Linked DNA regions of Homo sapiens. The protein of the gene in region 1 purifies or fractionates together with the protein of each later gene. This does not show direct contact. Each region holds a gene or a part of one and is shown on either strand. Other genes may lie near its edges.

What was found.
Region 2: the proteins of SMIM20 (region 1) and ACKR5 purify together in Homo sapiens (co-immunoprecipitation; one large-scale study listed by IntAct). This does not show direct contact.

What each region holds. Positions count from the first base shown.
Region 1 is NC_000004.12:25,923,701-25,928,073, reverse strand, and holds part of SMIM20 (small integral membrane protein 20), read right to left. Parts: intron 1-4,373.
Region 2 is NC_000012.12:56,993,237-56,997,291, forward strand, and holds the start of ACKR5 (G-protein coupled receptor 182), read left to right. Parts: upstream 1-1,255; 5' UTR 1,256-1,412; intron 1,413-1,957; 5' UTR 1,958-1,973; coding exon 1,974-3,188; 3' UTR 3,189-4,055. UniProt on the Homo sapiens protein: Orphan receptor.

The DNA of each region.
Region 1 (4,373 bases):
CTAACATCTCTTCTCTGTGATCTCAGCATTTTGGAAAGACAAGAAAACAACAACAAAAAAAGAACAATTTTGAAAGAACTGGTGGGCGTGATATCACGAGGGGAAAGCTGCTGAATTGAAGGAACAAGTACAATTAAGAAAACGATGTAGTTTATATGTCTAAAATGCACTCCACCAAAGGACTAGACTCAGAGCTAAATATGCTATGTTTTTGATAGGAAATAGAGCAGAAAATTAATCTTTGGGTGGGTGGCTTTGGTTTGGATAATTGAAGCTTCCCTAATTGATTGCAGGTGCTGCGCCAATTAGCACATTGTAGCGACAGCAACTAAGCCAGTCTCTTTGGAGATGTCCAACAGGCAAGGGCCAAGAGAAATTGGGCATTTCATATCTGTGGGCTTGAAGCACTCTGACACATTTTTCTAAGTGGTTTAGAATAAACCCAAGGTCTGTAAAAACAAAGAGTTATTATTTTAAGTATCTTGACAAACAAATGACAGCTTTTCAGGAGAAAGCCTTAGAGCCAAAGGACGTTTACCACTAAATTATAGTAATGAAATGTCATAATCGGACCTTTGTTTTAATCAGGCTGACAGTGTTTCTTTAAATCCACATTTAGCTCTTATTTAGTATCAGGCCATTTTCTTTACTTTGGCCTCTGGATTCTCATAAAGTTACACAAACGTAACGGTACAAGAAACAGGGTTTGGCCAAATCTAATATTCATTGAACTTGCTTCTCTAGTCATGTGACAGAAAGTCAATCCTAAATGACCGACCTGATAGTTTTATCAATACTAAGTTTTGCTGTGGCAAATAAAACACTGGGCAATGGGGATTATGGGAATCCTGATATCCAAGTCTAAGAGGGATGGAGAGAACACATAGGATACTCAGGCCTATTCCAGGCAACAAGCGGCCTGATGGTTTCACTGCTCCTCTCTGAAAAGTAGCGGATGAATGGCAACCAAGATTCTCTCAAGATATATCAAAAGATTTCTTCCATTTAGAGTGGATATTATGGAGCCTCTAAAGTGTTAGACTTTCTGAAATAACACAAAAGGTGTCCTCATTTCTTAAGACATTAAATCATTGTAGAACTGAGCCCCACCATCCTATAGACATGTAAGTCTCAAAGTATGGATGTCTCGAACATGCTCTTGGAAGATACCAACATGTAAAAGCCCACAGTCATCAGTCTTGGCAGGAACAAAAATAGAATTAATTTTCTGTATCTAACTAAAAGGTCTATTTTCTGATACTATGGAAGAGGGAAGATTTGAGTTTTAAAAAATCACTATCAGAAAGCATTCTAGACTTAGAGATTTCATAAAATCAGACATCCTGGTGTACCAAACACATTGTCCAGAGGCAGGTACTGCAAGGCAAAAGAAGCTGGCAGACTGCCAAGCATCAAAGGAAGCTGACTTTTGGTGGCAAGGACCGAATGCCTAATTGGGTTCTAACCTCTTATGATGCAACGGAGAACCAAATGAAAAGAAAGAAATCCCTGTCTTCACACTTTCTTGCTAATTGCTAATGAGGCTGAAGCAAGGCTGAAGATTTATTTTAAATAGACCATAATCTCTTTATAATCCTTGTCCTAATGCAAACACCTCTGTAGTTTGGCTTGGTCAGGAAATTTAAACCACTTTGCTGAGCCAGTTCCTACCAAATGATAACCAGGTATTAGCATCCTATCTACATCCCCTGGTTCTTTAATCCATTAATGTTTTATAAATACTCTAAGGCCAAAGCAGTCTTATGTAAATTCATGATGTAACACAAAGACACTTTATCTGTGAATGCAGAATACTCTAAAAGGAAAACAGAAACGAGTCCCTCACGATTTAGCAGTGCATCTTGATTGAGGTTGACAGTAAGCTTCTATTTCCCTATCTTTGGAAAAGAGCAAATGTATATAAACCTCAGGAAAAGGGAAATGGCAGAAGTCAGGGGTTTAACTATGTAAACAAATCAGGATAAACTTATTACCAATTTCACTAGTGAGCACATTTCTATCAGGAGTGAAATAATTTAAACCCAAATATGGCACACCGGGTTAAAAAACTCCCCACTCCAGTGTCTCAGCAAGCCCGACTCTGCCCCCTGGTGCTAAGGCAGTGGTGTGATTTGTAGTTTTAATTGAGGACGTTATCTCTGGTCCAGGGGCCAAAGTGTATTATTAAAACTAGTAATACATGCAGACCGGCTGATTTTTTGTACGATAGTAAAAGAATCTACCTAATAATGTTGAAGTCTTTAAAAACAAAAACATATCCTTATATTAAATGTCCACACCGGAAAATACATCGACTGTGTGACTTGTTACTTGAACATTCACAACAATGCAAACACTGCAGGATACTCAAGCCCCAGCTCCCTCAGCAGTCTCAGGATTATTCGTTGAGGGTGCTCTAGTGGAGGACCAGCAGACAGAAACCTAAAATAAAAAAGCAAATGAAAGCTGGTGCAAGGTATGACCTTGGGAACCTACCTCCCTATTTCTTCCTGCCAATAAATACTTAAAAGCAACTCTGCCGGGCGCAGTGGCTCACACCTGTAATCCTAGCACTTTGGGAGGCCGAGGCGGGTGGATCACCTGAGGTCAAGAGTTCAAGACCAGCCTGGCCAACGTGACGAAACCCCATCTCTACTAAAAATACAAAAATTAGCCAGGCATGGTGGCGGGCGCCTATAATCCCAGCTACTTGGGAGGCTAAGGCAGGAGAATTGCTTGAACCTGGGGGTCAGAGGTTGTAGTCAGCCAAGATCATGCCACTGCACTCGAGCCTGGGCGCAAGAGCAAAACTCTGTCTCAAAAAAGAAAAATAAAAAAATAAAATAAAATAAAAGCAACTCACAACTTGAATTGTGACAAATGGCAAAATTTGAACGTGGGCTGTATATTCCATACAAGTTGAATATCCCTTATCTGAAATTGGTTGAGAACAGAATTGGTTTGGATTTAGGATTTTTTTCAGATTTTGGAATATTTACATATATATATAACAAGATATCTTGGGGATGGGATCCAAGTCTAAACATTAAATTCATTTGTTTCACATACATCTTATATACATAGACTGAAGATAATTTTATACAATGTTTTTAATAATTTTGTGCATGAAACTAAATTTATATTAAGTACTTATGTGTGGTATTTTCCACTTGTGTCATTTTGGAACTCAAAAAATTCCAGATTTTGGAGCATTTTCCATTTTCAGATTAGAAATGCTCCAACTGTAATAGCACTGTATCAACGTTAAATTTCTTAGATTGGAAAACCGCATTGTGATTACATAAGAGAATGCCCTTGTTCTTCGGAAATACAGGCTGAAGTGTTTAGGAATGAAAGCTCACAATGTCTTTGACCTACTCTCAAATGGTTCAACAAAATAACAGTAATAATTATAATATATAGTACATATAACTATATCTGTATATATGTATGTATCTGTATGTTATATATAGGGGGAGAAAGCAAATGTGGCAAAATGTTAACAACTGGTAAATCAAGGTGAAGGACAATATAGGAATTTACTGCACTGTTCTTGGATCTTTTGTCAGTTTGAGTTTCTTTTGTTTATTTATTTATTTTTTGAGAAAGAGTCTTGCTCTGTCACCCAGGCTGGAGTACAGTGGCGTGATCTCGGCTCACTGCAACCTCTGCCTCCCAGGTTCAAGTGATTCTGCTGCCTCAGCCTCCCCAAGTTTGAGTTTCTTTTTTCACTAACAAAAACCACATAACTGTACAACATGCATACGAAAAGTCCAACACCATTTTGACTCTTCCATGGTGATTATTTCAAAGAAGCTATCTTTTAAAAAGTAGCAAATATAAAATTTTTTTCAAAAGCTTTTCAGTTGCTTTTGTTGCTGCTGTTACCTAGATACATACACCATCTGCCTCTGGGGTATTCCAGAACTGGAGGTTCACTGGTGGTGAGTGTGAACCAGGGGCCAAGGGGAAGCCATATGACCGCAGCAGCAAGTGCAACCCAGTTGGCTGAAGGGGACCAAATGGACGTGGTGACAAGAAAGAACCAGGGACGGAGGGGAAGCCATATGACCACAGGAGCAAGTGTGACCCAGTTGGCTGAAGGGGACCAAGTAGCCACTTGAAGCACTGCACTCCTCCCAACAGTGTCAACAGGTCTGTTTCCTCACCAGAGCCTGGTTGAATCCAGGGAACTGTGTAATGCCAGTTAGAAAACAAGACCCAGTCTGCCTGCGCATTTCATTCGATTATGTGGTGAAAGGACTGAAAAGCATATTCTAAGCACCTGGCATGTCACAAGGAAAATGCCCTGACAAGGTAAGAATTCTTTCTGCATCAGGTGATTTCCAGTACCGTGTGCTGCCTAGGCATAG
Region 2 (4,055 bases), on another chromosome or scaffold:
TAATGAAGATGTTTAGCACGTAGACAGAGGTGGTGTTTGCACAATGTGCATGTCTAAATGCCATTAAATCACACATTTTAAAATGGTTAATTTTATGCTATGGGAATTTCACCTCGACTTAATATATACTCAATCCCGTCCAGCCGACACACCTTTGGCTCAGGCCTAGGCCACTCTGCCATCTGCCAAGTGTGGCTTGTGTAACAGACAACTTCTCTGGGCCTCAAAGAGGGTGAAGAAATCCATCCTCCCCACAGGGGTATCTCCAGAATCCAACGAGATGAAGTGAGGTGAAAGCGCTCTGAAGGGCAGGAAGCTCTGCTGACACAAAATGTTTACCCATAACACGTGGCTTAGAGTCCCTTACCCTCTAGCTTGGCGGGAGAGAGAAGTCTGCTCTCCCTACCCCACGCCCCATCCCCTGCTCATCCCCTGCCAGCCACCCACCACACCCTTCACGCAGAGAAGTATAGAGCCACAGGGGGAGGGCGCCATTCTCTCTCTCCCTCCCTACTCAGGAATCTCCCTGAAGCTTTGACAAAGCCCCCTTGACACCCCGCATTCAATCTTATTTTTATTTTTTTTTATTAACTCTGTCACCTAGGCTGGAGTGCAGTGACCTGATCTCAGCTCACTGCAACCTCCGCCTCCTGGGCTCAAGCGATTCTCCTGCCTCAGCCTCTCAAAATGCTGGAATTACAGGCGTGAGCCACCATGCCCAGCCATTCAATCTTTTCTTTCCCAGATTCTCACCTCCAATCACAAGATGAAGGCAGGGAGCTCACAGCCCTGTGAGGGGCTGGGGAGAATGGCAGGGGTGGGCCAGAGTTATTAAAAGCCCAACTGATGTTCAGATTTATTTTGACCCTCCCCTATACCCCCACATCCAATTTCACTCTAGTAGGAATCAAGACAGGGGAGAGAGGGATTCCAAGCTGACTTAGGGAGAGGAAAATACATACATACGTAAAGCATTTGCCACAGGCCCCACCTGAGCTAAGCACTTTCCCTCCCTCAACAGCTCCTTTAATTCTCAAAGCATCCCTTTTAGTAGATAATAGACCCCACTTTGCAGAGGAGAGCACTGAGGCTGAGGAAAGAGGTAAATTCATTCAGCGGGTGAGGGAGGAGCTGGGATTTTAATGCTGGCAGTATGACCTCCCCGCCACTGGCACACCGGGTCTTTTGCTGGGACATCCCCTGTAACCGGATTGGGGGAATGCAGGAAAAACCCCATCCCTCCCTACAGAGCCTCAGCAGTGACAGCTACTTCCCGGATGAGAAGGGCGGCCGTGAAGCCAGCAGGGAAGCCAGCCCCACAGCCAAGGGCCCCCCAGCCTCCTCACAGCTCCCCATAGCCTGGACCTGCCGGCCCTCCCTCCAGGACCGAGGGGCTCCCAAGGGAAACTCAGGTGAGTGTCGCCCTCTCCCAGGGAAGATGGGAATCAGGGCTTGGAGACAACTGGCTATCCTGCATGATCCACAGGTTTTCCTAGGGATGAATCAGATTGTGTGGTGTGCGTGTGTGTGTGTGTGTTCCACACTCACGGTCCAAATAACAAGACAGAAAAAGAGCAATAAAGATCTGTGCAAAAGGGCTGAGGAATGAAGTGCCAGGAGAGAGGTGGAGGTTGGAGACCACCTAGGAATGGTGGGTGTGGGGGGATTGAGGGGGTTGTTGAGGGGGAACTGGCTGGGGGTGGGGAGAAATGTTGGTGGACACCAACAGTCCTGGCCTCTTCCAGCTGAAACCCCTTAAGAAAGTATCTCTGCTCTTGGGTCAGAGCTAGCAAGTGAGTTGTGTATTATTTATTCACAGTTTGAAAGCTAAACTTCCCTTTCTTGCCTTAGCCCCAGAATCTTTCCCCAAAGCCCCCGACTCCCTCTGGCCTCTACCTTGAGGACACAAGGCTCTCGAGGTCTGCTTTCCCTTCCAACCCTCCCTTCATCCCAATAGGCGTGTGCTGGTCCCAATGTCAGTGAAACCCAGCTGGGGGCCTGGCCCCTCGGAGGGGGTCACCGCAGTGCCTACCAGTGACCTTGGAGAGATCCACAACTGGACCGAGCTGCTTGACCTCTTCAACCACACTTTGTCTGAGTGCCACGTGGAGCTCAGCCAGAGCACCAAGCGCGTGGTCCTCTTTGCCCTCTACCTGGCCATGTTTGTGGTTGGGCTGGTGGAGAACCTCCTGGTGATATGCGTCAACTGGCGCGGCTCAGGCCGGGCAGGGCTGATGAACCTCTACATCCTCAACATGGCCATCGCGGACCTGGGCATTGTCCTGTCTCTGCCCGTGTGGATGCTGGAGGTCACGCTGGACTACACCTGGCTCTGGGGCAGCTTCTCCTGCCGCTTCACTCACTACTTCTACTTTGTCAACATGTATAGCAGCATCTTCTTCCTGGTGTGCCTCAGTGTCGACCGCTATGTCACCCTCACCAGCGCCTCCCCCTCCTGGCAGCGTTACCAGCACCGAGTGCGGCGGGCCATGTGTGCAGGCATCTGGGTCCTCTCGGCCATCATCCCGCTGCCTGAGGTGGTCCACATCCAGCTGGTGGAGGGCCCTGAGCCCATGTGCCTCTTCATGGCACCTTTTGAAACGTACAGCACCTGGGCCCTGGCGGTGGCCCTGTCCACCACCATCCTGGGCTTCCTGCTGCCCTTCCCTCTCATCACAGTCTTCAATGTGCTGACAGCCTGCCGGCTGCGGCAGCCAGGACAACCCAAGAGCCGGCGCCACTGCCTGCTGCTGTGCGCCTACGTGGCCGTCTTTGTCATGTGCTGGCTGCCCTATCATGTGACCCTGCTGCTGCTCACACTGCATGGGACCCACATCTCCCTCCACTGCCACCTGGTCCACCTGCTCTACTTCTTCTATGATGTCATTGACTGCTTCTCCATGCTGCACTGTGTCATCAACCCCATCCTTTACAACTTTCTCAGCCCACACTTCCGGGGCCGGCTCCTGAATGCTGTAGTCCATTACCTTCCTAAGGACCAGACCAAGGCGGGCACATGCGCCTCCTCTTCCTCCTGTTCCACCCAGCATTCCATCATCATCACCAAGGGTGATAGCCAGCCTGCTGCAGCAGCCCCCCACCCTGAGCCAAGCCTGAGCTTTCAGGCACACCATTTGCTTCCAAATACTTCCCCCATCTCTCCCACTCAGCCTCTTACACCCAGCTGAGGTAGAGGCCAGACTCCTCCAACAGTGAAGGAAAAGGCACAGGTGAGAGTATAGGTGGGAGATTTGGGGGGATGTAGAGGGGAGGGTCAAAGCACTCGTGGTCAATTTTGAATCTATCTTAAAATACTGAGGTGTGGAGAGAGAGACAGGATCAGGAGCGATAGAGAGCAGGCCCTCAGTGTTGTACTATTTGTCTCGGTCCTTGTGTCTAAGGAGCAATGCAGAAAAAAAGGTGAAATAAATGGAAGAGATAGCCATGGACTCTGGATCTTTTAAAAATCTGCACTTCCAGCTGGGATTGGGAAGGGAGCTGAGGCTAAAGAGGTGCTCGGCAGAGGAAACTAGACACATTCATTTCATAAATCACTCTGGCTGGAAACAGTGAACTCTGCAGGAACCTCACAAAACTCCTTTTGCGTTTGTGAGCTTGTTGATCTTCCAGCTCACTATGCAGGTTATGGGGACAAGAGGCCAGAGGCCAAGGAACCAGGCGGCCCCAGCAGGACGTTCCCTAGCTGTGCATCCTATGCACAGCCATGATAAGTGAAGGCGGATGGGGATGGCAGGGGTGGGGGCGAAGCCAAGGTCTGAGACCTGCACCCTGCAGCTGGGTCAGCAGGATGGTATCTCCACCCGCGGCCATCCAGGAAACACAGCTCCATTTCCTTGCTGACACCCTCCCCTCCCCGTTGTCCATCCTGCTCCCTCCCCACAAGCAAGAGGAGTTGTCCCAGAGTCAGCTCCTCATAGCTGACCTCTTACCAGCTTCGGATCTAGGAAACTTCCAGACTTCTAGGGAGACACAGAGCTACCAGAAAGCCCAACCCACCCCCATCTCTTTCTCTCCAGATCATAGGAAAGTATCAA